Linked DNA regions of Homo sapiens: regions 2 and 3 are each linked to region 1. The links come from fine-mapping of genetic effects on gene expression. A gene starts in region 1. Each other region holds a variant in brackets. All regions are shown on one strand. Distances are from middle to middle.

Region 1 (8,266 bases):
ATCGACAGGAAAAGAAAGTAGATAGTGGTTGGCAAAGGAAGGAATAAGGAGTGACTGCTAATAGATAAGAAGTTTCTTTCTGGGGTGAGAAGAATGTTCTAGAGTTAGTGGTGACATTTTTACAAATTTCTGGCTATACTAAAAAAAAAAACCCACCGGGCCAGGCGCGGTGGCTCAGGCCTGTAATCCCAGCACTTTGGGAGGCTGAGGTAGGCAGATCACGAGGTCAGGAGATCGAGACCATCCTGGCTAACACAGTGAAACCCCGTCTCTACTAAAAATACAAAAACTTAGCCAGGTGTGGTGGTGGACGCCTGTAGTCCCAGCTACTCGGGAGGCTGAGGCAGGAAAATGGCATGAACTCAGGAGGCGGAGCTTGCAGTGAGCCAAGATTGCGCCACTGCACTCTAGCCTGGGCGACAGAGTGAGACTCCATCTCAAAAAAACAAAAAAAACACTGAATTTTGGCTCATACCTATAATCCCAGCACTGTGTGAGACCTAGGCAGGTGGATCACATGAGGCCAGGATTTCCTGTCCAGCCTGGCCAACATGGCAAAACCCCATCTCTATTAAAAATAAAAAAAATTAGCCAGACATGGTGGCACACGCCTGTAATCCTAGCTCCTCGGGAGGCTGGGGCACAAGAATATTGAACCCGGGAGGCAGAGGTTGCAGTAAGCCAAGATTGCGCCACCGCACTCCAGCCTGGGCTAAAGAACCAGTTTATCTCGAAAAATAAAAATAAATAAATAAAAAGGTTGGGGGCAGTGGCTCACACCTGTAATCCCAACACTTTCAGCGGCTGAATCACTTGAGCTCAGGAGTTCAAGACCGGCCTGGCCAACATGGCGAAAACCCATCTCTACAAAAAATACAAAAATTAGCTGCACGTGATGGTGCACACCTATGGTCCCCGCTACTTGGGAGGCTGAAGTGGAAGGATTGCTTGAGCTTGGGAGGCGGAGGTTGCAGTGAGCCAAGATCATGCCACTGCACGCCAGCCTGGGTGACAGAGGCAGACCCTGTCTCTAAACAACAAAAAACCCCACTGAATTGTATACGTTAAAAGGACTTTACATCACGTGAATTACATCTCAATGAGAAATAAAATACTGAATGAACGAATACGTGGACATAACTGCTTCCCAACTAGACTGTGTGGGCGGTGGGGAGCATGTTGCAGACATCTTGGATTCCACAGCCCCTGACACAAGGTAGGTAGTGGTAAATAAAGATGGTCAATGAATACCAGAACACGGGAGCTCAGTAAACAGCAGAGCACACTGAAAAATAAAAAGCACTCCAGACATCGAAGGTTTTATGCCCACACTTGTGCAAACATCCAACGACAGCTCCCACAGCACGCAGCAGGGCAGCGCAACGAAAACTGCCTTCAACTAGCAGCGACAAAACACCTTGATTCCAGTCCCAGCTCTGCTTCTAACTCACTGTGTACCCCTGAGTAAGTCCCTTCCCCTGCTGGACTATCTCAGGGGATTTGCGAGACCAACTGGACTTCATTCCTTTTCTGTCAACTTTTGTATTTCTTTAGTACTTCCTAGACAGAGGGAAGTGGCTTGTATTTTAAGTGCTAGAGGCAGCTTCCCAATTCCCCTAAGATAATGACAAGTGGAAAATGCTTATTTAATGTCAGCCTAGTAGCTGATCTTAGGCTTGCCCTGCACTTTTTTTTTCTTTTTAAATTTTGGAGGTCAGTCCCGCTGGCTGGCAAGGCAACATCTGTAAAAAAGCACTAGGCTGGCCGGGTGTGGTGGCTCACGCCTGTAATCCCAGCACTTTGGGAGGCCAAGGTGGGCGGATCATAAGGTCAGGAGATCGAGACCATCCTGGCTAACATGGTGAAACCCCGTCTCTACTAAAAATTCAACAAATTAGCCGGGCGTGGTGGTGGGCGCCTGTAGTCCCAGCTATTCGGGAGGCTGAGACAGGAGAATGGCGTGAACCCGGGAGGCAGAGCTTGCAGTGAGCCGAGATCAGGCCACTGCACTCCAGCCTGGGCGACACAGCGAGATTCCATCTTTAAAAAAAAAGCACTAGACTGGTGGTCCGAGTCCATATTCTGTCAGTATTCAGGTGTGAGGGTTTCAGGCAAATCGCATCCTTTAACCCCCTCAGCTGTAACACAGGGACACCAGCATAAACTTAATTTGACAAATGTTTCTTGAGGCCTAACATATGCACAACTTTGGTCTACGTATCAAGGACTGTAAAGGTGACTGGACCCCTTTCCTCTGCCCTAACCTTCTAAGGAAGGCAAACAGGTGCATCTTGTACTAGAAGCAGGAATGACTCAGACCAAATGTACTATATGACGGGCCATAAAGGAATAAAGTATTGATGCATGCTCATAAACCATGGATGAACCTTGAAAACACTATGCTTAGGGGTGGGGGGAAGAAAGATTATTTGGGACCAGGGCATAATGAAGAGATGGTTGGAATTATTAAGGAAACTGTGAGGGTAGGGGCGGGGCGGGATCTCGTTTATCTGTGCCCTAAGAGCCCCCACAAAAGTCCGGCACACAGCCCGTATCCTAGGGCTTCCGACGCTGGGTAATGGGTAACAAGAGACAGAAGACATGTTTCTCCAATGTAAGTCACGCAGGGCGGTGGTGGATGACAGAGCTGGCCCACAGTCCCGCCAGAGCCAGAGAGCCTAGAAGGATAGTGCATGCAGCTCGTCCCGCCCACCGCACGGGTTTGATGGATGTGGGGTGGGGATGGGGGGGGAAATAGATGAATAATGAACCAACGAACGACGCGCAGGTGGCTACTGGCTCGCGCCAGCGGAGAGAAAGGCGTGAGCAGCCTCGCTGATACCTGCGAAGCCGCTATAGTGGGACCCAGGCTCGTAGTGCCTCCGGCCGGAGGACACATCGTAGACACGGCCGAGCAACGCCAAGTACAGGCCCGGGTCCCCTGGGCCGCCGCGGTAGCGAGACAGCTCCTCCGGTATGAAAAGGCGAAAGCCAGCGCGGGGACCCCACCAGCCCATAAGCCGTGCTGCCATTACCGCTGCTGCGGCTACAGCCAGGCCCAACAAAAGCCCACGGCCTCCGCACCTCAACATCTATATAGGCCCACCCGCTCCGCACTTCCGAGGTTGCCGCCTCTATCTACAGCTAAGATGGCCGAGACGCCGAGCGTGACGTCATCGGCGCGCGCGCTCTCGCTCTCTCTCTCGCGCGCTAGTGCTCGCGCTCCCTCCCTTAGTCTCTCTCGTTTTATCTGTATTCCTGGCACTGGCGAAAAGCTCGCTGTCTGCGACTTTTTCCAGGTACTTTTTTTTTTTTTTTCTGAGACAGAGTTTTAGCTCTTGTTGTCCAGGCTGGAGTGCACTGGCGGAATCTCGGCTCACTGCAACCTCCGCCTCCCGGGTTCAAGCGATTCTCCTGCCTCAGCCTCCCAAGTAGCTGGGATTACAGGCACGCGCCCCCACGTCCGGCTAATATTTTGTATTTAGTAGAGACAGGGTTTCACCACGTTGGTCAGGCTGGTCTCGAACTCCTGACCTCAGGTGATCCACCCGTCTCGGCCTCCCAAAGTGCTGGGATTACAGGCGTGAGCCACCGCGCCTGGCCCTTCTCGTACTTCTTGGCTTGCAGGTTGTCAGCCCCAACAAAGATGGCGGCAGCGGAGGCTACGGAATGACGTAGATACTGAGACAGACTCGTCCTCTGGGAAATCAAGGTTGCACCCTTTGAGGCGGCGCTCCCCGCCTAGCTGTCGTGAGTTGGTAGAGGCCGCCTATCTACGTGACGGCGCCTTTGCGACAGCGGTCGTCGCTTGACGGCCAGGAAGCCGGAAGCCGCAGGGGCCGCCGTCGTCTCCTCCGCGTCCCCGCCCGCCAGCTGCTGTCGGAGGTTGACAGGTCGAGGCGGGGAGGCGGCGGCGGCGGCTGCAGAGCCAGGCGCCCAAGACGGAGACCCCATGGGGAACGCTCCGAGTCACAGCAGTGAAGACGAAGCGGCAGCTGCCGGTGGCGAGGGCTGGGGCCCACACCAGGACTGGGCCGCGGTCTCGGGCACGACCCCCGGCCCGGGCGTCGCGGCTCCAGCGCTACCACCCGCCGCGGCGCTGCTGGAGCCGGCCAGGCTGCGAGAGGCTGCTGCAGCGTTGCTGCCCACACCCCCCTGCGAGTCGCTGGTGTCGAGGCATCGCGGCGCGTTGTTTCGCTGGCTGGAAGAGCGGCTGGGCCGCGGCGAAGAGTCTGTCACTCTGGAGCAGTTCCGGGAGCTGCTGGAGGCTCGCGGCGCCGGCTGCTCTAGCGAGCAGTTCGAGGAGGTCAGGGCCGGCAGGCGACTGCGGGGATGGGGCAGGGCGGTCGCCCCCAGGGGACTGAAGGAAGAGGTGGGCATTTGCTTTGGAGAGGCCAGGCGGGGACCCATATGAGGTGTTTCCAGCTTTTCACCAGGCGTTTGCTTCGTTTCTCTTTAACCTATGTTAGAGGTCTGGAAAGTCTGCATCAGGCCGTCCTTGCTCTGAAGAGCTGGACAAGCCCATATGTCTCTCTCTGTATGTTGTAATGCAGACCTTTGTGCAGTTGATTGACGCTACTCTGGAGATCTTCTATCAGATTCTCGAACAGTTTGGAGAGAAAAGAGATGTAAGGATAGGAGGAGTGGCGCTGAGAACCATTTTTTGTATTGTCCTGTCCAGGTTTTTACACAGCACCTTCCCAATTCAGTGTGGGCGCCGAATAAGTGTGGAAAGACAGTAGTAACATGCTGGAAAGGCTCACATTCTAAAACCTATCCTCCTCATGCAAAAACTAGCTTTTCTAAAATACATACTGGTTTGTAGATCCTTAAAGAACCATATATTAGACTCATTTAAACCTTCATAGGATCCGAAACTGATAGGCAAATACCAGGTTTCCTGTGAATACTTGTAATTATGCAGTTCTTCATATAATCACCAAGATCATGTCTGCTAAGTCATTAAGAGAGCAAATTGATTTGGCAACAAAATATTTTCCTTGGAAGGCATTTTGGGAGTTTATTTACTGGGCGCTTCACTTCGAGTTAAGAAGACTGATCCAGGGTTACCCAGTGAATCATTAGTAAAACAGACTATCAACTAGATCTCTTGCTTTTTTTTTTTTTCTTTCTTTCAACTTTTATTTTAAATTCAGGCGTACATGTGCAGGATTTGGATTTGCAGATGTATTACATAGGTAAACGTGTGCCATGGTGGTTTACTCCACACAGCATCCCATCACCCAGGTATTAAGCCCAGCATCCATTAGGTATTCTTCCTGATGCTCTCTCTCCCTCCACCCGCACCCTATTTTTTGTTTTTAATGTCTCACTACCTCCTTCCTGGGATCCTATTTCTTTTAACACCACGGTATGACCAAAAAGGTACTTATTTTGTGAAAATGAGTTAGCCAGTCATGTAGAATCTTCAGTGGCCACGAAGGGTGTGTACATAAAGCAGTAAACCAGCGGGTACTTGCAGTGCCTTTAAAAGGTTCTGTTCACCTTAAAATCAGAGGCTTTTAAAATATTTTAAGAATGTCTTCCTGTACATGGCCAGAATTCAGATAATGTAGTTTGTGTGTTTCTTATGAAAAAAGTACCTTTAAGGCATCCCAACCCTTAAAAATAATAGTCATGGCTGGGCGCAGTGGCTCACGCCTGTAATCCCAGCACTTTGGGAGGCTGAGGCGGGAGGATCATCTGAGGTCAGGAATTCAAGACCAGCCTGGCCAACGTGGTGAAACCCCACCTCTACTAAAAATACAAAAATTAGCTGGGCATGGTGGCGGGTGCCTGTAATCCCAGCTACTTGGGAGGCTGAGGTGGGACAACCGCTTGAACCCAGGAGGCGGAGGTTGCAGTGAGCTGAGATCACGCCACTGCATTCCAGCCTGGGCCTCAGAGCGATACTCTGTCTCAAAAAAAAAAAAAAAAGTCATATTAGTTAGTGAAAGATCTCCTTTTTTTTTCCCCCCAGGAATACACATAGTACCTTCTTTCTAGTATCTACGCGTATTATGAGAATATGAAGTAGTAGTGGGAAGAACCATGCAGAACTGTTGAAGGAGATGGCACTTTGCAGATTTGAGCAAAGGCAAATGGAGAGAAACACCGTTTACATTCTGAGAGTTTCTGACAGAAATAGAACTTTATGTAGAGTTCATAGGAGTCCCTTAATAGAAGGTCAAGAAATACTTGAGGTGTGGTCCAGAAATCACTCAGGGGTTGTGGCATTATTGTTCACTGAGCAAATGTTTATTGGGCGTATATCGAGTGCCACTCACTTGGATGACAGTGGACAAAGCAGATACTTGCTCTTAAAGAGTATGTAGTTGTGGTGGAAGAGACAGGTATTAACCCATTAATTATAAGATATGGTGAGTGTTAACCGAGGGGGAAGGTATAAGGAATAAATAGCAAGTGTATTTAACCTCACTTGGGGCTCAAGCAAGACTTACCTGAGAAGGTAACATTTCAGCCCACAGGTGAATGGTGAAAGCAGATAGTGTTACAGGAGGTAGTAACAGCGTTTCAGGCAGAGGAAATTGTATCCACAAAAGTTCAAAGTCCAGAGAATCTGGAAGAAGTCTGGTGTGGTGTATTAGGGATACACAAAACTTTTTCAAGGGACAGAAAACCTAATGCATCAGTGGTTTAAACATAAAAAGAAGCTGCTTCCTTATGAAAATGTCCAGGTAGGCAGTCCAAGATTGATGTGGCAGTGTTGTCATCATCAGGGACCTGGCTTCGTCCATCTTGTGCTGTCATCCTCCACGGACATCTTCCACTTAGTAATTCTGTTGACTCCTGCTGTCATTTTCCACATTCCAACAAGCAAGAAAGGGAAAAGGGAAGGAGAAGGAAGAAGCCATGCCCACTCTCTTACGGGCATAGCTTACATCCCACAGGCCAAAATTCAGTCACATGGCCGCAGTTACCTGCAGGACAGGCTGGGAAAGATTCTTTTTCCGTGGCCATATATTCAGCTAAAACTCAGGGCTTAATTATTGAGGAAGGGGAGAGAAAACATTGAGTTATATTTGGCAGTCTTTGATTCACATAGCTAGGTCATACAGTTCTGTGAGTGAGGCTTAGCCAAGGTTTAAAAACCTGATTGTGATAATCTCACAGTGGCCACCGTCTCTCATGATAATCTTGTGATGGCTGCTCTGTCTGTAAGAACTAGTAAGTTAGGACTAGCCAAAGAAGATAAGATTTAGCCATGCATTTGATTCTGTGCTTTAAGAATGTCTATCCTTAGACTTGAATAAGTATATACTTTTGTGCATACTTACACAGTTAATTCTGCGTTGTTAATCTACGTCTAAGCTTTTGAGAATATACTGCTGTATTTTACTGCAAGATGAAGGGCTTGTGAAGTAATGTCTTTATAGTAGCAACTAAAATGACAAGTTGTTTCCGTCATTCGTTTTTATAAGAGCTAACATGGTAAAACAGATAGCCACGGGTGCGCATGGTTTATTATAATGCTGAGAGTTTCCAAGTGTTACATGTTTCTTCTTTGGCTTCCCAACTTACGCTGCCATTGGTGTCCACGCAGCTGTCTTGCTTTCACATTCCTGTGACCTCAGTTATTTGAGGAGGTGTTATAAAGAAGTTCTTGGAGTTGGACCATGGACCAAAGTCTGAAACATTATCATTTTATAGTACAACACACCTTTTCTCATGGTAGGTGTGGTCCAGGGAGAAGGTGCGCATGGTTTATTATAATGCTGAGAGTTTCCAAGTGTTACATGTTTCTTCTTTGGCTTCCTAACTTAGCTGCCATTGGTGTCCACGCAGCTGTCTTGCTTTCACATTCCTGTGACCTCAGTTACTTGAGGAGGTGTTATAAAGAAGTTCTTGGAGTTGGACCATGGACCAAAGTCTGAAACATTATCATTTTATAGTACAACACACCTTTTCTCATGGTAGGTGTGGTCCAGGGAGAAGGGACTCTCTCAGTTTGCTCACAAGGAGCAATATTTAATTAACTGCCATGTAGAGGGGAAATAGAATTAAAATTAAGTTCTTATTTCACATCAGAGGTTATAGATTAGATATTTATGCTCTTAGAGTATGATTCTAGAAAATCTTCTAGGGCAGAAAAACGTGCTGAGTACAGGATAACAGATGGCCCTAAAGTGAAATTTCATATGAATAGGTTGTGTTTTATTAATTTGCCACATAGTTTTGGTGCCTACTTTGTGAAATTCGTGGGGTGGTAAGCTCTAAGGGAAGGGCCTTTTTGATTCATCTCTGT
Region 2 (8,266 bases), 49 kb after region 1:
CCCAGGCTGGTTTTGAGGCTCAAGTGATCCACTGGCCTCAGCCTCCCAAAGTGCTGGGATTACAGGCATGAGCTACTGTGCCTGGCCCAGACTTTTTATTTAGCTCATTAATTAATGAGGGAACCAGTAAGATGTTACAAACAGTTCTAAGGAGAATTCATAAAATACATGTAGACTAACAAGAATGCTAAAATTAATTTACAAATAGATAGAATGTTGGTCAGTATCCATAAGGAATAATCAGCAACATTTCCACAGAACACAGTGTTTAGTTCTGTGGACAAGAATCATGTGCATCACTACCAGTGTTCTACAACTTACAGAATTGTAAAATAGTTTAGAGACCATAAAAGGCAGAGACGACCGAAAGGGTATGTTGGCTAGGACACCCAGTGATTCTTTTTTTTTTTTTTTTTTTTTTTTCCCATTTCAAAGCCTTTCATAACCTTTCCTGACAAAGTGTTGTAGAAGCTAACTAATCCCTTTCTCAGCCACTAAGCCAGTAGGCTTTATCAGCCCAGGCAGCCATCAGCCATGGTTGTAGGTGTGGCTCAGGAAGATGATTGATTGTCCAGTCTTTTGTCGCTTTGGCTTAAATGTTTTATAAACATTTCTTTTCTTTTTCTTTTTCTTTTTCTTTTTTTTTTTTGAGACGGAGTTTCACTCTGTTGCCCAGGCTGGAGTGCAGTGGCACAATCTCCAAGCTCCGCCTCCCGGGTTCACGCCATTCTCCTGTCTCAGCCTCCCGAGTAGGTGGGACTACAGGCGCCCGCCACCACACCTGGATAATTTTTTGTATTTTTAGTAGAGACGGGGTTTCTCCGTGTTAGCCAGGATGGTCTCCGTCTCCTGATCTCGTGATCCACCCGCCTCGGCCTCCCAAAGTGCTGGGATTACAGACGTGAGCCACTGTGCCCGGCCTAAACATTTATTTTCTTATTGTTACCTCAGAGCAGGGCTGCCTGTGAGGTGGAGGGGATTGTGCCCTGGGAAAGTTGAACCTGGTCAGTTCTCTGCTTACCTGGGGCTTTATCATCGGGGTTGCCTCTGTCCAAAGAGGACATTTTTCTCTAATTTTCGTGAAGATATCAGACCAGTTACCCCCCATGACTCAAAGGATATGGTTTGTTTTTGTTGATCTTAGTTCTTAGGGCTATAAAAATGGGTTAGTTCCCTAACTTGAGTTTTCCCTTTTTTCAGGTTTTCTTACGGAAACTGGAAAAACCAGAGCCAGCACTATTTTTTCTACCGGAACTGAATCTGCCTTCCAAGTTACACAGATAAGAATTATGGTAATTTTCGTGCTACCTTCTTTAAGCAATGTTACTACTTTTGTTTTCAATTTTTATGGGTACATAGTAGGTATATATATTTGTGGGGTACATGAGGTGTTTTGATACAGGCATGCAATGTGAAATAATCATACAGAGGATGAGGATGAGCTATTCATCCCCTCAGGCATTTAGTCTTTGTGTTATAAACAATCCATTACACTGTTGTAGTTACTTTTCCATGTACAATTAGGTTATTATTGAATATTACCTTTTATTACATTTCAGAAGTCCACGTCATTGGTGTTTTGGTTTTTTTTTTTAAAGTCAGACCTATGGCTGACCATGTCATTGGTTATTCATTGAACATTTAATGATGATTTACTCTGTGTCAGGCCTGTAGCAGAGGGCAGGGACACAAAGATGGATAGACTGTAAAGTCTTTGAAATGGTGAGAATATAAGGATTGAGAAAGTTAAGGAACATTTCTTGGGAAACAGCTTTCTTATTTTTTGAGGGCTTAATATGTTTGAAATATTTTTCATTGGTCTCGTTTTGTTTTAACCTGTTTGAATTTAACCATGCTGGAAACAAAACGGCCACAGAACTTTTGCCCCTTTGATAGACTTCATCCTAATCTCTGTTTCCAGGTTCGACGTGGTGGCATTGGTGCCCAGTGTGGGTTGGTGTTTGCCTATAACTCATCTTCAGATAAATTTTGTGCGGAAGAACACTTCAAAAGGTTTGAAAAATATGACAAATGGAAGCTTCAGGAGCTCAGGCAATTTGTAAAAAGCAGGTAAGAAGGTAAAAAATCTTTGTAGAACAAAGATCTACAGAACAAAAATCTTTGTAGTTAATAAGAATGTATTCATGCTCATTGGTGAACTGTGCTTGCTTGTCTTTATAGAAAAGGCGCCACTAATCCATCTCAGTGGCCATAAGCCTTCATTGCTTTCTAGTAGCATATCTGAAGATGTGTATGTTAATTTGTTCATAGCATGTTACTCAGTCCCTTTTGTGGCCAGGGGCACACATCTTCACAATGGCTGGGTAATGATCTATCTATGCCTGAATTGTGGACAGCCTGCAGTCTTTAGCCATTGCCCCAACCCCCCTTCTCCCATTCCTGCTTTTAACACAAATACTTATTAAGTACCTACTGTGTGCCAGGCCTGATGCTAGGTGCTGAAGATACCGTAATGAGGAAATTGGCACAGTTCTTGCTTTATATAGCTTACTGTTTAGCTCAGAAGACAGGTAAGAAAACTTGCAGTATCAACAGTGTTATGAATGTGCTGTAGGGGAGAAAGGGCGCTGTGGGGACACAGGGCAGAGCGGCCCTCCTGATCAGAGACATCTTTCTGGAGCAAGTGTTGTTATGCTGTTTATGAAGGATGAGTTGGAGTTGATCGGCCACTGGAAGGAGAATGTCCTAAGCAGAGAGGGCAGCTTCATGGGCCCAGAGGTGAAGCATGGCACATTGAAGGAACGGGCAGGTCCCGCATTGCTGAGGGATACTCGGAGGGAGGGTGATGAGAGATGCAGCTGGAGAGCTGGGAAAGGGCAGGGCATTCAGGGCTTTGTCTCTGTTTCTGTATCCTTAAAGCATCATGTGAGGGGAAATGGCAGGGGAATGTGTTGAGGCATTTCCAGAAAAGCAGGGGGCTCAAATGCATGTTGTAGAAGCACTGGTCAGGATCATGTTGTGTGTAGTATGGACTGGAGGAGAGCAAGTCTGGAGGCAGCTGGGCTGGGAGGAGGTTGTCACTTATTGCCTAGGAAGCCAGTGGGTGACTCCTACTAGAGCAGCAGCAGCAGTGCAGAGATGTGGACCAAGAGACCACTAGGAGGGAGAAGCGACAGGACCTGGTGATTGACTGAATGTGGAGCAGGAGAGGGAAAAAAGCCTCATCGGCAGTGAATCCTGGCTTTTGGCTTGAGCAGGTGGGGAAATTGGTAGTGCCTTTCTTACTCTGGGGAAAAACAGGTTTGTGGGGAAGATGATGAGCTCAGATTTTGTTCTGTTGAATTTGAAGTTCTGAGAAACCTTTGAGGTGTTCGGTAGCCAATGGATAATCGGTAGCCAATGGATAAACAGGTCAGGAGCCAGGAAGAGAAGTTTGTGCTGAAGGTACAGATATGAGAGGCATTTAAACGATAATTTAAAATGTAGAAATAGGCCAAGTGTGGTGGCTCATGCATGTAATCCCAGCATTTTGGTAGGCCAAGATAGGTGGATTTTGAGCCCAGGGGATTGAGACCAGCCTGAGCAACATAGTGAGACCCCCATCTCTAAAAAAAAAAGAAAAACATAAAAATTAGCTGGCCATGGTATCACGCGCCTGTAGTCCCAGCTACTTGGAAGACTGAGGCGGGAGGATCCCTTGAGCCCCGGAGGTTGAGGCTGCAGTGAACT[G/A]TCTTCACGCCACTGCACTCCTGCCTGGGTGACAGAGTGAGATCCTGCCTCAAAAATAAATAAATAAAATGTAGAAGTGGAAGAGATCATTCTGCAAGAGTGTGTGAACTGGGAAGAGAAGAGAACTTAGGTCAACATGAGACACACCAGGCTTTAAGGGGCAACAAGGAAAACTCAGCCAGACAAGCAGCAGGAAAGCCAGGGCCTCATGAAGGAAAGCTGTGTCCCATGAAGCCAAGGGAAAATAATGTTTGAGGGAATGGGCGATGGTGTCAGATGTTACCCAGAAGTCAGAAGGTAAAGTCTAAAAGTGGATCTGTCGGATGTAGCCACTGGTGCCCCCTTGGATAAGGTTACCTCCCCTATTGCTACTAGTGAGTTAAAATTGAAGAAGCTAAGACAAGAAAAAAAAATACTCAAGGAGCTGAAACCCTGAACTTGCCTGCATTATTTCATGGGTAGTGGATTGCTGGTGTTAATAGAAGCCTTTCAGTACCATCCACTGCAGTACTCCTTGAGCTTTAGTGTGCATACACATCAGCCAGGGAATTTGTGAAAATGCACATTCTGATTCAGGAGCTCTGGGTGGGGTCTGAGACTGATTTCTTACAGGCTCTCGGGAGATTCTGATGCTACCTGTCTGTGGACCATACTTGAAATCGTAAGGATCTAGAATAATTCGAATAATTCGCTCTTCTTGCTGCAATTCCTTTAGCAGCATTCCTGGCAAAGGTTCGGTCAGCCTCTCTACAATACCGTTGATGGAAAACTCACCACGTATCAGGCACTTCAGTAATCAGAATTTGTTCAGTTGAAATCCACATTTGTAATGTCTCTTCAGTGGTCTTCGTTTCAGCCCTTTAATGAATTTGAACAAATGTCTTTCACTCCTAAAATCTCCCTTCCGTTACACGTGTATGCCTTTTTAAACACTGCTTTTCTTTTAAAGTAATAACTAGAGATGACACTGGGTTTTAGGCAGCTATGTCCTACTCTTGGGACAAATTAAAATGGGTCATTTCCCCTAAACCTGCTGTTAAACAAGGTCTTTTACATCTTATACAGGATGATTTTTTTTTAACCTAAATAGAGGCCTATTCACCACTCCCTTAATGATTTTAGCTCCTGATTCCAGCCTGAATGACTCTTAAATCGTGATTTTGTTGGCCTACATATTCACCAGTCCCTCTCCAGTTTGGAAATCAAAATATTAATGTGCATGCATTTTCTTTTTGCCTTTTTTTTTTTTTTGGTCATGTCCTCCTGGTCAGGCGTTCGTCAGTCAGCATGCTCCAGGGTCAGCAGTTGGTGCTGTGCCTACGTCAGAGGACTAGGATTCATCTGTCTTCCATCTTGCCTACTATGTAGTGCAGTGTAGGGAACAAGATTGCTTCTCTCTGTTCTCTGATACCCTGCCAGCTTTCTGTATCTCGAAGATTTCCTTGACAACTCCCAAAGAGTAGATTAAAAAATCTTTAAGCTTATGATATTGATGAAACTCATTGACATGGTTTTGGCTTAAGAGAATACCGTTTCCCATTAGGGTTAACTGTGTCATGAAAGGTTTATGCCAAGAAAGACTTATGTTAAGAAGGGACATTTTGCCGGGCACAGTGGCTCACACCTGTAATCCTAGCGCACTTTGGAAGGCCGAGGCGGGTGGATCACTTGAGGTCAGGACTTGAGGTCAGAAACCAGCCTGGCCAAGATGGTGAAACCCCATCTATACTAAAAATACAAAAAAATTAGCCAGGTGTGGTGGCAGGCACCTGTAATCCCAGCTGCTTGGGAAGCTGAGGCAGGTGAATCTTTTGAACCTGGGAGGTGGAGGTTGCAGTGAGCCAAGATTGTGCCACTGCATTGCAGCCTGGGCGACAGAGCAAGACTCCATCTCAAAAAAAAAAAAAAAAAGGGACATGTTTTCTCTCTGTTACAGAACCTACTCGGGATTGTCTTCTTGCCATAATTCCCTCTTTTTGGTAGTTTTACCTATATAAAATACTAATGTGTCGCCAGCTTGGTGGCTATATATCACAGACTGAATAGTGTAAAGTTTTAGGAATGTTACTTGAAAAAACTGCTCTTTTTCTCCTTCTTATTTATTTATATTATTTTTATTATTTTTTTTTTTTTTGAGGTGGAGTTTCGCTCTTGTTGCCCAGGCTGGAGTGCAGTGGCACGATCTTGGCTCACCGCAACCTCCGCCTCCTGGGTTCAAGCAATTCCCCTGCCTGAGCCTCCCGAGTAGCTGGGATTACAGGCATGCACCACCACGCCTGGCTAATTTTGTATTTTTAGTAGAGACAGAGTTTCTTAATGTTGGTCAGGCTGGTCTCGAATTCCTGACCTCAGGTGCTCTGCCTGCCTCAGCCTCCCAAAGTGCTGGGATTACAGGTGTGAGCCACCGTGCCCGGCCTTATTTTTATATTTTTTTGAGATGGAGCCTTGCTCTGTCACCCAGGCTGGAGTGCAATGGCGTGATCTCAGTTCACTGCAACCTCCACCTCTTGGGTTCAAGTGATTCCCCTGCCTCAGCCTCCTGAGTAGCTGAGATTACAGGTGTGCACCACCACGCCTGGCTAATTTTTTGTATGTTTAGTAGAGACAGGGTTCGCCATGTTTACCAGGCTGGTCTCAAACTCCTGACCTCAAGTGATCCATCCACCTCAACCTCCTAAAGTGCTTATAGGTGTGAGCCATCGTGCCCAGCACATCTTAGTTACTTAATTCCTGAAAAGGGAGTAGCATTTAAGTGTTCAGCTTTTAAAAAGAAGTGGCATACATTCTCTTAAAAAGAAGAGAAGACATCTCTTCAGCCTCAAGGCTGGAATGTTTTTCTGAAAGAACTTCTTAAGAAACAGACAAGAATACTGAGGCCTACGAAGGCTGGGGTTTTTGTTTTTTTGGACCTCCAGGATCTGAAAGCCCTCAGATGTTTACCCATCAGCTATTGCAAGTGGCCCAAACCTCAGGTTGGTCATAAACATGTTAGCCAGACCTAGGGAAAGAAAACCAAGCCTGCCTCTTTTCTGGCACTTTCCAGAAGCACATGCCAGCTGTTGCATTGGACCTTACTCCTGAGTCATCCACAATGCCCGACTTTCTGTCTCATTCTTCAGATGAGCCAATTAGAGAAGCAAACTTTCTCCTTAGTTCCCAGATTATATTTCCCAGTTCATAGAGAAGGAGACTGAGCAATGGAAAGGCAATACTACCAACTGTCTCATGTGCTCACAGGGTACCATGTACCATAGTCAGCTCTCGATTGTTCACTGACAGGCTACAGATACAAGTTACATGTCACTTAGATGATACCTTATTTGTTAGACCCTTGAGAAGTTTCAAAATAAAATGTTTTGTGAATACTCTTGTCTTTACAGGATTGGTTGCTCATCTGATGACCTTGGAGAGGATGATCCTATTGGCTGGTTTGAACTGGAAGAAGAATGGGATGAAGCAGATGTGAAGCTGCAACAGTGCAGAGTTGCCAAAGTAAGCATTAGTGCGTCGTTTGCCCACTCCCCTCCTTTTATTCTGTGTTTTTTGAGTAGTGATTGTGTATCAGCCCTGTGCCAATGCTACAACCCCAGAGGCGAATCTACCTTCAGGGAGTTCATACTCTGTGGGAGAGACAGATGTGTAAGACAGTGTGATACGAGCTGTGATAAAAGGAGAGACAGAGAGCTGTTGGCAACCAGGGGAAAAATATGTAACTCGAAAGCTTCTCAGGAAGGGTGGTGTGATGTCAAATGTTGAAGATTAAGTTGTCATCCTTAGCCAGGCTACAGTGTGTGGAGGAGGGCGTCTCAGGCTGAGAGAATAGTTGAGAACACAGCATCCTTAGCCAGGCTACAGTGTGTGGAGGAGGGCACCTCAGGCTGAGAGAATAGTGAGAACACAGCATCCTTAGCCAGGCTACAGTGTGTGGAGGAGGGCGCCTCAGGCTGAGAGAATAGTGAGAACACAGCATCCTTAGCCAGGCTGCAGTGTGTGGAGGAGGGCGTCTCAGGCTGAGAGAATAGTTGAGAACACAGCATCCTTAGCCAGGCTACAGTGTGTGGAGGAGGGCGTCTCAGGCTGACAGAATAGTTGAGAACACAGCATCCTTAGCCAGGCTGCAGTGTGTGGAGGAGGGCGTCTCAGGCTGAGAGAATAGTTGAGAACACAGCATCCTTAGCCAGGCTGCAGTGTGTGGAGGAGGGCGTCTCAGGCTGAGAGAATAGTTGAGAACACAGCATCCTTAGCCAGGCTGCAGTGTGTGGAGGAGGGCGTCTCAGGCTGAGAGAATAGTTGAGAACACAGCATCCTTAGCCAGGCTGCAGTGTGTGGAGGAGGGCGTCTCAGGCTGAGAGAATAGTTGAGAACACAGCATCCTTAGCCAGGCTGCAGTGTGTGGAGGAGGGCGTCTCAGGCTGAGAGAATAGTTGAGAACACAGCATCCTTAGCCAGGCTACAGTGTGTGGAGGAGGGCGCCTCAGGCTGAGAGAATAGTGAGAACACAGCATCCTTAGCCAGGCTACAGTGTGTGGAGGAGGGCGCCTCAGGCTGAGAGAATAGTGAGAACACAGCATCCTTA
Region 3 (8,266 bases), 91 kb after region 1:
TTTTCACGGGAGCATGAGCCCACAATAAACCGCGCATGCGAGGCATCTAGTTTGTGCGCTGCTTATGAGAGTCTAATGACTGATGATCTGAGGTGGAACAGTTTCATCCCGAAACCATCCCCCACCCAGTCCTGTGCAGAAATTGTCTTCTACGAAATTGGTCCCTGGTGCCAAAAAGGGGGACTGCTGCCCTAGCGTCTGGTGTTTAACCTTTAACCTGAGGGGCTATAAATCCTGATTTGACTACACTCAGAGTGGCTCCCTGCCGTAGAACTAGACTCATTGAAAAATTGGCTCTTAAAGCTGATGTACAATATGAGGTGCCAGTTTACTAATTTACAGTGAGAAATAGAATTGCTGGAGGGCCTGGGCTCTAGTGTCCTTGGAGCAGCACATTCTCTTCCTGTAGACAAGCAGTGTGGGAAGCCACGTTTCCATCAGAAGGCTGCCTGGTGAGCATGGGAGCAGCCGTTATGTATAGAGAGGGCATCAGAGCTGCATGATTCAGATGTGCAAAGGCTCAGGCTCAGATAGCCCACTGTGTCCATCTCCACGTCAGGTGTTAAATCCATCGCTACCACATGTGCCAAGCATCTGCTGCCTCAGATTCATTCATTTTCTAAGTATCGAGTGCCTACTATGTGCCAACCACTTTGTTCACGTAGCACCACTGTGGTGCTTGGATGGAGCTTGCCAAGTGGGCCTTTGTGGCTTTTTCTCTCGCATATGTTAATACCTTTTGGGAGTTCTGTAGTTGTAAGGTGACTTGGCATATTTGCTCTGGTCTACTGTATGACTTACTGATTTAGATCCCTCATTTCCAGGCCCTAAAGAGAAACAATACTGTAGTCCAAGTACTTTCCAGTAAAGCAATTTGTTTGCTCATTAGACAGTACCCAGACTATCCCTGCAGAAAGTTTGCCTGTAAGTGCCAGGGACAGTACTCCTTTTGCAGTGTTTCCTGTATCTGTGAACACTACCATCGTCCAACCACGTACCCAAGCCAGAAACTTTCTTCCCTTTTACTGATCCCTATATCCAGTCGGTCACCAAGGTTTCCCACTTCTGCCTCAACACCTCAAATCTACGCACCTTTCACCATCCCGCCTACTACTCAGTCCCAGCCCTTATAATGTGCCATGGGGTTCCTTTAACGCTTTGGTCATGGTCAGTCTCACTGAGTCCAGGCTTGCCCCTTTGATCCATTCTTTCCTCAACTTCCAGAAGAGCACTCCAGTCCGATCACATTACTCTTCTCTCTAAAAACAATCTGTAACTCCTAAGACTGATATGCAAGGCCCTTTGTGGTTTAACCTTTCTCTCTTCATCTGACTCTTCCCCTCTGTACTGTATTCGACGCACTGAGTCATGCCAGTTTCATAAACCTGTCTCTCATCCCCTTTTTGCTGTCTGTCAAATTTGCTATTTCTATCTGACATGCCCACCTCCCTTACCCCGACCCGTCTAGTACCTGTTTGTCCTTTGGGTCTCACCTGAGGAATTATCTCCTTTGGAAAACCTTCTTTGACCTTCTGAATACCCATTGGTAGCCATAGTCCTCTGTCCTCTAAGCCTCCTGCAATTTCCTGTGAAAGCACTGGTCATACTAAATGGTCATCACCTCCTTGATGGAATTCCCAACTAGACACTGAGGAGCTTATTCATTATCAAATCCTAGCACTTAGTACAATGCCTGGAACATCTTCAGTACCTAGTGAATGGAGGAATTGATTAGTGAATTGTGGCCACCTTAGAAAATCTATCAGTTAATTGTATATGTTTGGCCTTACAGATGCACATGTTCATTGCTCGCTACTGTGACCTGTTAAATGTGGACATCTCTTGTGATGGGTGTGATGAGATTGCCCCCTGGCATCGATACCGCTGTCTGCAGTGCAGCGACATGGATCTCTGCAAAACTTGCTTCCTAGGTAAATTTCATGAACTGGGTACGCCGTATCCAAAGGCAATATCACTTCTGATTTCTATGATCTTGTCATTTTTAAAAACTCTCAGTGTACTAAATCAAAGTACTGCCCAGTGGTATTTTCTCTGACTTCTTGGCGAACATGAGCCTTATCTCCTCAACTAAATGAAAAGCTCCACAGCCCTAATATCTGTCGTGCTTCCTTCTTCTATCATGCTGGGTGTAGCCACATAATAAACACTCGGGACCAGTGTATGTATGTTCAGTGGAGTTTTCAGGAAATAGTGTTTGCTTCTGAATCATGCAGTGTTTACATGTAGCAAAATACACACGCACACATACACAAGCAAGCTTCAAAAATCCTCGTACACTTGACTTCTAGGTGCTGAGGTAAAACAGATGCACAGTAGTGCACACCTGACTGGCCTTTTTGTGCATGGCCCAGTGGTAAGAGACAGCCCTTGCCCTGGAACCATCTACAGTCCAGCAGGAGGACTGGACAGATCCACAGAATGTCTATTCCAGTACAAGAATGTGTGTGCTGAGTTATAAAGGAGGGTACAGATTGTTTCTGGAAAAGTTTAGAAGCAGTAGCAGCATTGCTGCAGGGAAGGCTCGTGAAGGAGGTGGAATGAGAATTGGTTTTTGAAGGAAGTTAGAACTGGATGATGTGTAGGAAACGTTGGGGATGGTATCACCATCAAGGGCATAGCAAACCCTGGGACAGAGGAGTGTCTGTAGTGACTTTAGATGGCCATGCTGAAATGTTTGCCCAACTAAGTGATGGATTAAGACAGGTGGGGCCCCCGACTGTGGGACCCCAAGATACTAGGCTAAGGAGTTTGAATAGTCTAGAGACAGCAGGGAAGGTTTTTGAAGTAGGTATTATTAATAACATGATGAGAGCTATGCTAGAGGAAGGTGGTTCTGTCAGTGCTAAGAGTCTCCTTTAGGAAATCAGTCACAGTATTCACACAGGCATGGGAGCCTGGACTGGGTTCATGACAGTGAGAATGAACAGAAGTGGGCCAGGCGCGAGGAGCATTCTTTAGGGTCCATGACAGAGCTTAGAGTGAGAAGGGCCCAAGGGCCTTAGAGTGAGAAGGAGACCAGTGCAGCCCATCTCTTTCCTGACTGTTATTCTCTCTCACTCACTGGGTCTGGGTCTGGTTTTTTCTCCCCCGCCGCCCTCCCGAGACAAAGTCTCACTCTGTCCCTCAGGCTAGAGTACAGTGGCACCATCTCAGCTCACTGCAACTTCTGCCTCCTGGGTTAAAGTGATTTTCCTGCTTCAGCCTCCCAAGTAGCTGGGAGTACAGGTGCCTGCCACCACACGTGGCTAATTTTTGTATTTTCAATAGAGACGAGGTTTCACCATATTGCCCAGGCTGGTCTTGAACTCTTAGACTCAAGCGATCTGCCTGCCTCGGCCTCCCAAAGTGCTGGGATTACAGGCATGAGCCACAACGCCTGGCCCTTTTTTAATTTTTTAATTTTTATTTTTTTATTTTGGAAGTCTGTTTTCATCTGTGATTCTGGAGTGAAAAAGGAAGAGCAAATATCCTGATCAGTCCTCAGTGCTTGTTAACAGGAATACATCAACAGAAGCTTACTCTTTGTTAGTGGAGGGGTCATAGGAGACAGCTCACAAATTAACATGTGGACTTGTTTCCACCAAACAGCAGTCCTGATAATGCATTTGATCTCACTGTACCATTGCCGAGAAATTCTGTGCCAAGAGTCTCATTCATA[T/C]GCCTTGAGCCACCCAGGCAGAGCACCCTGTCTCCAGAGAACGCCTGTGGGCCCTGTATCCCTGAGCAGTCACTTGGGAACGGCCCTGGTGCTGGGGTTGGTTTGGGTTTGGAAACTAGCCCATCTAGGAGCCCTCTACCTCATCCCCTCACACTGCTGTGTTTCTCCTCAGGTGGGGTGAAGCCTGAGGGCCACGGAGACGACCATGAAATGGTCAACATGGAGTTTACCTGTGACCACTGCCAGGGTTTGATCATAGGCCGGAGGATGAACTGCAATGTTTGCGATGACTTTGATCTTTGCTACGGATGCTATGCAGCGAAGAAATACTCCTACGGGTATGTCTCAAGTGACCGTCGCCACCAAGCCTTTTATTTACACGTTCCTTCACTTGAAAAGGGACTTCTTTCTTTTTTTAAAAAAGTTTTTTTTATTTAAAAATTTAAACATAACCAAAAGTAAAGAGACTAACACAGTGAACCTTCATGTACCCATTACCCAGGTTCAGCAGTTAGGAAGATTTTGTAATGTGTGCTTAGTTTATTGCTTTTTTTTTTTTTTCCTGTGTTAAAGTATTTTAAAGCCAATTCCAGGACCAGGCTCGGTGGCTCACGCCTGTAATCCCAGCACTTTCAGAGGCCGAGGCGAACTCCTGTGGTCAGGAGTTCGAGATCAGCCTGCCCAACATGGAGAAACCCCGTCTCTACTAAAAATACAAAAATTAGCTGGGTGTGGTGGTGGGTGCCTGTAATCCCAGCTACTTGGGAGGCTAAGGCATGAGAATCGCTTGAACCTGGGAGGCGGAGGTTGCAGTGAGCTGAGACTGCGCCACTGCACTCCAGCCTGAGCGACAGAACGAGACTCCATCTCAAATAAATAAATACATAAATAAAGCAAATTCCAGGCCTTAAATTATTTCCTTCCTACATACTTTATACCCCCCTTTAAAAATTATGGGTTTTATTCACATTACCAAAATGCTATTACCACACCTTCCAAAATCACAATAAGCAATTCTTCCTTAGTCCAATTTCTGCAGACAACCTCTGGGGATTGTGAAACCCTGAAAGGCATGTTCTGTGTTTGTGTTTCTTCATTTTTCTGGAGAGAGGGCCCACACCTTTCTTTACATTTTCAGTAAGCGCATCCTAGAGGTGACTAATGCCCAGTTGCGACCACATGCTCTCCTAAGGCCCTGTGCTCCTGTTTGGAGCCACAAAAGCTTTTGGAGGGTTGTAAGCTTTAAATGTGTCTTGCCTTTGCAGCCATTTGCCTACCCACAGCATCACGGCCCACCCAATGGTAACCATTCGGATCAGTGACCGGCAGAGGCTCATCCAGCCATATATCCATAACTACTCCTGGCTGCTCTTTGCTGCCCTGGCTCTCTATAGCGCCCACCTGGCCAGTGCAGAGGATGTGGATGGGGAGAAGCTGGACCCCCAGACGCGCAGCAGTGCCACCACCCTGCGGAGCCAGTGCATGCAGCTCGTCGGGGACTGTCTGATGAAGGCTCATCAGGGAAAAGGTGACTTCCCAATGCACAGAAACCAAAACCAGCCCTCAGTTGCTGGTGAAAAAAAGCCTTGGCAAATGTAAAATACTAAGCTTAGTTTACAGGTGGCAACATCCACTTTTCCACAAAAGGGGCTTACCCTGGTGTGGAACTTAATTTTTAAGTTCCCCGATGGATTTTAGAGAAATGTTGGCATTGAAGTTCAACATTTAATTTCTCTGAAACTAATATTAATACCTCAAACTAATTTTAAATAATAATTAAAACTCTTTATATCTGTGGATGCAGTCTAGTATTTGAATCTACCAAACTTTGCTGAAAGAATCCAGACTTCTTAACCTGGAGTGTAAATCTGCTTCCACACAAGTGTATTCTAGATGAGAGCTGTTTACGAGTAAAATAGTTTAGCAATATATCGACATGAATCTGACTCGACTAAGGAGTGGTGGGAAGAAAGCAACTTGAAAGTTAAACCTTGGAGACATCTAAGTTCCTTCAGATAATGGCATCCCCATTCTAGTCAACATTAGGGAACCAGGCCTGTATGAGATAGCACATGGGTAACGCCAGCACCTTAGAGCAGTTCCCATACCAGTTTGCCAGTGAGAATTGAGCAGTCTGATTGTGTGGGGCTAGTATAAAAGTATAATGTTGATTATTTTCTAAATAGACAATCCTGTTATATGTTTTATCTTCTGTTGTTAATAAAGTATAAAGTGCAGGTATCCCTTGCTATTCAGCCTCTCACCATCTGAGAGGAGGAGCTGAGTAGATTTAGACAGCGAGGGATGTTCACGTTGAGTCCTCTAGGATTTGGTTTGTGCAGAACTCATTTATTTATTTCTATATAATGGCAAAGTAACTTATGGCACTTGCTGAAAAGAACTCTCATTATAAAACTTCTAACCATTCTCTGATTTGCTTCCCACATAGGCCTTAAAGCTCTAGCTTTGCTGGGTGTATTGCCAGATGGGGACTCGAGCCTAGAAGATCAGGCCCTACCAGTCACTGTGCCCACCGGAGCGTCAGAGGAGCAGCTAGAGAAGAAAGCTGTCCAGGGTGCTGAGCTGTCAGAAGCAGGCAATGTAAATGACGATTCTTTACTACACAGAATCACAGGTTGAACTCTAGAGAGAGCCATTCACTCAGTGCAGCATAGCAGAGAGGTTAAGAGCACAGACTCCTAACCCAGACTGCTGGATTCACATGCCTGCTCCATCAAACCTTGGGCATGTTGTTATCATCTCTTCAGTGTTTGTTTTATTTTCTTTTGTTTTGTTTTGAAACAGGGTCTCGCTGTCACCCAGGCTGGAGTGCAGTGGCGTGATCTTGGCTCACTGCAGCCTTGACCTCCCCAGGCTGAAGTGATCCTCCCACTTCATCCTTCTGAGTACCTGGGGCCGCAGGCATGTGCTACCATGCCTGGCTAATTTTTGTATTTTTTGTAGAGACAGGGTTTCGCCATGTTGCCCAGGGTGGTCTTGAACTCCTGGGCTCAAGTGATCTTCTGGCCTTGGCCTCCCAAAGTGATGGGATTACAGGCATGAGCCACTGCACCCAGCCTGCCTCAGTTTTCTCATCTATAAAATGGGGATGATGATATACTTGTAACATAGGCTTATTGTGAGGAGTTGTATATATGACGTACTTTGAGCTACTGTATGTCAAGTGCTTAGAAGAGTTGATAGTAAGTTCCATATCTGTGTTAACCACTCCCATTACCTGTCTCCTGGTAGTTTTTATAAGAATTAAACAAGATTGTGCACCTAAAGAAATTAATTGGCCAGGCACAGTGGCCTGTAATCCCAGCACTTTGGGAGGCCAAGGTGGGCGGATCACAAGGTCAGATGTTCAAGACCAGCCTGGCCAACAGGGTGAAACCCTGTCTCTACTAAAAATACAAAAAAAAAAAAAAAAAATTATCCAGGCTGGTGTCACGTGCCTGTAGTCCCAGCTACTCGAGAGGCAGGGGAATCGCTTGAACCCGGGAGGCGGAGGTTGCAGTGAGCCAAGATGGCGCCACTGCACTCCAAACTGGGCGACAGCAAGACTCCATCTCAAAAAAAACAACCAAAAAAAAGTCATTCCTAGCCCATGGTGTACACTGTATCGGTGTAGCTGTATTTATATTCAGTCAACAGTTAGGTGTTACTGATGCTTACTGTTTACCGGGTAGACGCAGTAATTTACACATAGTTGCATAAACAGAAAAGCTATTCTGGATCCAGGTATAACCTGTGATAGTGGCACTAAAGATTGTTTTATGGAAGAGCACGCCATTGTTTCTATGATGCTGCCTCCAGAGCTTGTGTTTCTGCTGAAAAGGCCCTTGACTGCCACAGGGGTCGCTGATGTTGCTGTCCTCTGTCTGTCAGGTTGCTAGTTCAAGGATTCCCCCATCTGGTGGTTGTAGCTCACCAAGGTCCCATTCTCATGTGGAGGAATACAAAAGCAAAACTGGCCAGCAGAAACATCAACATTTTTATTATTTCCATTCAGCCAGAGAGTCAGTAGAAGACAGGCCACATAATCATCAAGCCTGTCTCTCAACCGTCCACATTTTTTCCATGAAACGTCTTCTGTAGGCGGCACTTTAACCACCCACGGATTATGATGGGAACAAAGAGAACATTGTTAGGAGAAATGGGATTAATCAGTAGTCCTCACCTTTGAGCCTGGGAATATTTGTATCTTCTTGTGAGCCCTCAGCATCTTAAAACTAACCTTCCACCCATAAGCACTGTGCTTCCCCGTTTATCCTTTTATTTATGTCAGAATGGACTTAATAGGGTTTTTTTATGGGTTTTTTTTAATTCAATGGATAAAAATCTATTACTTTTCTTATTTTTTTTGAGACAGGGTCTCACTCTGTTGCCCAGGCTGGAGTGCAGTGGTATGATCTTGGCTCACTGCAACCTCCACCTCCTGGGCTCCAATGATCCTCCTACCTCAGCCTCTCAAGTAACTGGGACTACAGGCGCCCACCACCACGCCCAGCTAATTTTTTGTATTTTTAGTAGAGACGGGTTTCACCATGTTAGCCAGGTTGGTCTCGATCTTCTGACCTCGTG

Alleles and levels. Positions count from the first base shown, and alleles are read on the strand shown. Sizes are in standard deviations (SD) of each study's normalised expression. Not every link is listed here.
For the expression in thyroid of the gene that starts at base 3,818 in region 1, A is the high allele of the variant in region 2 and G is the other (small effect, 0.25 SD a copy in GTEx).

What was found. PIP is the estimated chance that this variant, and not a neighbour inherited with it, causes the effect.
Region 2: its variant is the best candidate, but not a certain one, in a credible set for the expression of ZZEF1 in thyroid (GTEx, PIP 0.58).
Region 3: its variant is the best candidate, but not a certain one, in a credible set for the expression of ZZEF1 in monocytes after Pam3CSK4 (Quach 2016, PIP 0.62).

Annotation. Positions count from the first base shown.
Region 1 is chr17:4,138,582-4,146,847 of GRCh38, reverse strand. ZZEF1 (zinc finger ZZ-type and EF-hand domain containing 1) reads left to right here and starts at 3,818. Exons shown (of 55, transcript NM_015113.4): 1 at 3,818-4,306. The coding sequence starts at 3,953. CYB5D2 (cytochrome b5 domain containing 2) reads right to left here and starts at 3,651. Exons shown (of 4, transcript NM_144611.4): 1 at 2,843-3,651. The coding sequence starts at 3,092. RefSeq lists enhancers at 2,803-3,382, 2,953-3,505, 3,533-3,842, 3,506-4,057 and a silencer at 3,923-4,092.
Region 2 is chr17:4,089,635-4,097,900 of GRCh38, reverse strand. ZZEF1 (zinc finger ZZ-type and EF-hand domain containing 1) reads left to right here. Exons shown (of 55, transcript NM_015113.4): 10 at 1,201-1,292; 11 at 1,922-2,070; 12 at 7,071-7,182. Among named protein-coding and RNA genes, the nearest start is that of ZZEF1, 49 kb to the left of the region's middle. The variant G/A (reference allele first, on the strand shown) is at 3,691.
Region 3 is chr17:4,047,722-4,055,987 of GRCh38, reverse strand. It overlaps ZZEF1 (zinc finger ZZ-type and EF-hand domain containing 1), which reads left to right. Exons shown (of 55, transcript NM_015113.4): 34 at 1,793-1,931; 35 at 3,852-4,017; 36 at 4,945-5,207; 37 at 6,129-6,280. Among named protein-coding and RNA genes, the nearest start is that of LINC01975, 75 kb to the right of the region's middle. The variant T/C (reference allele first, on the strand shown) is at 3,680.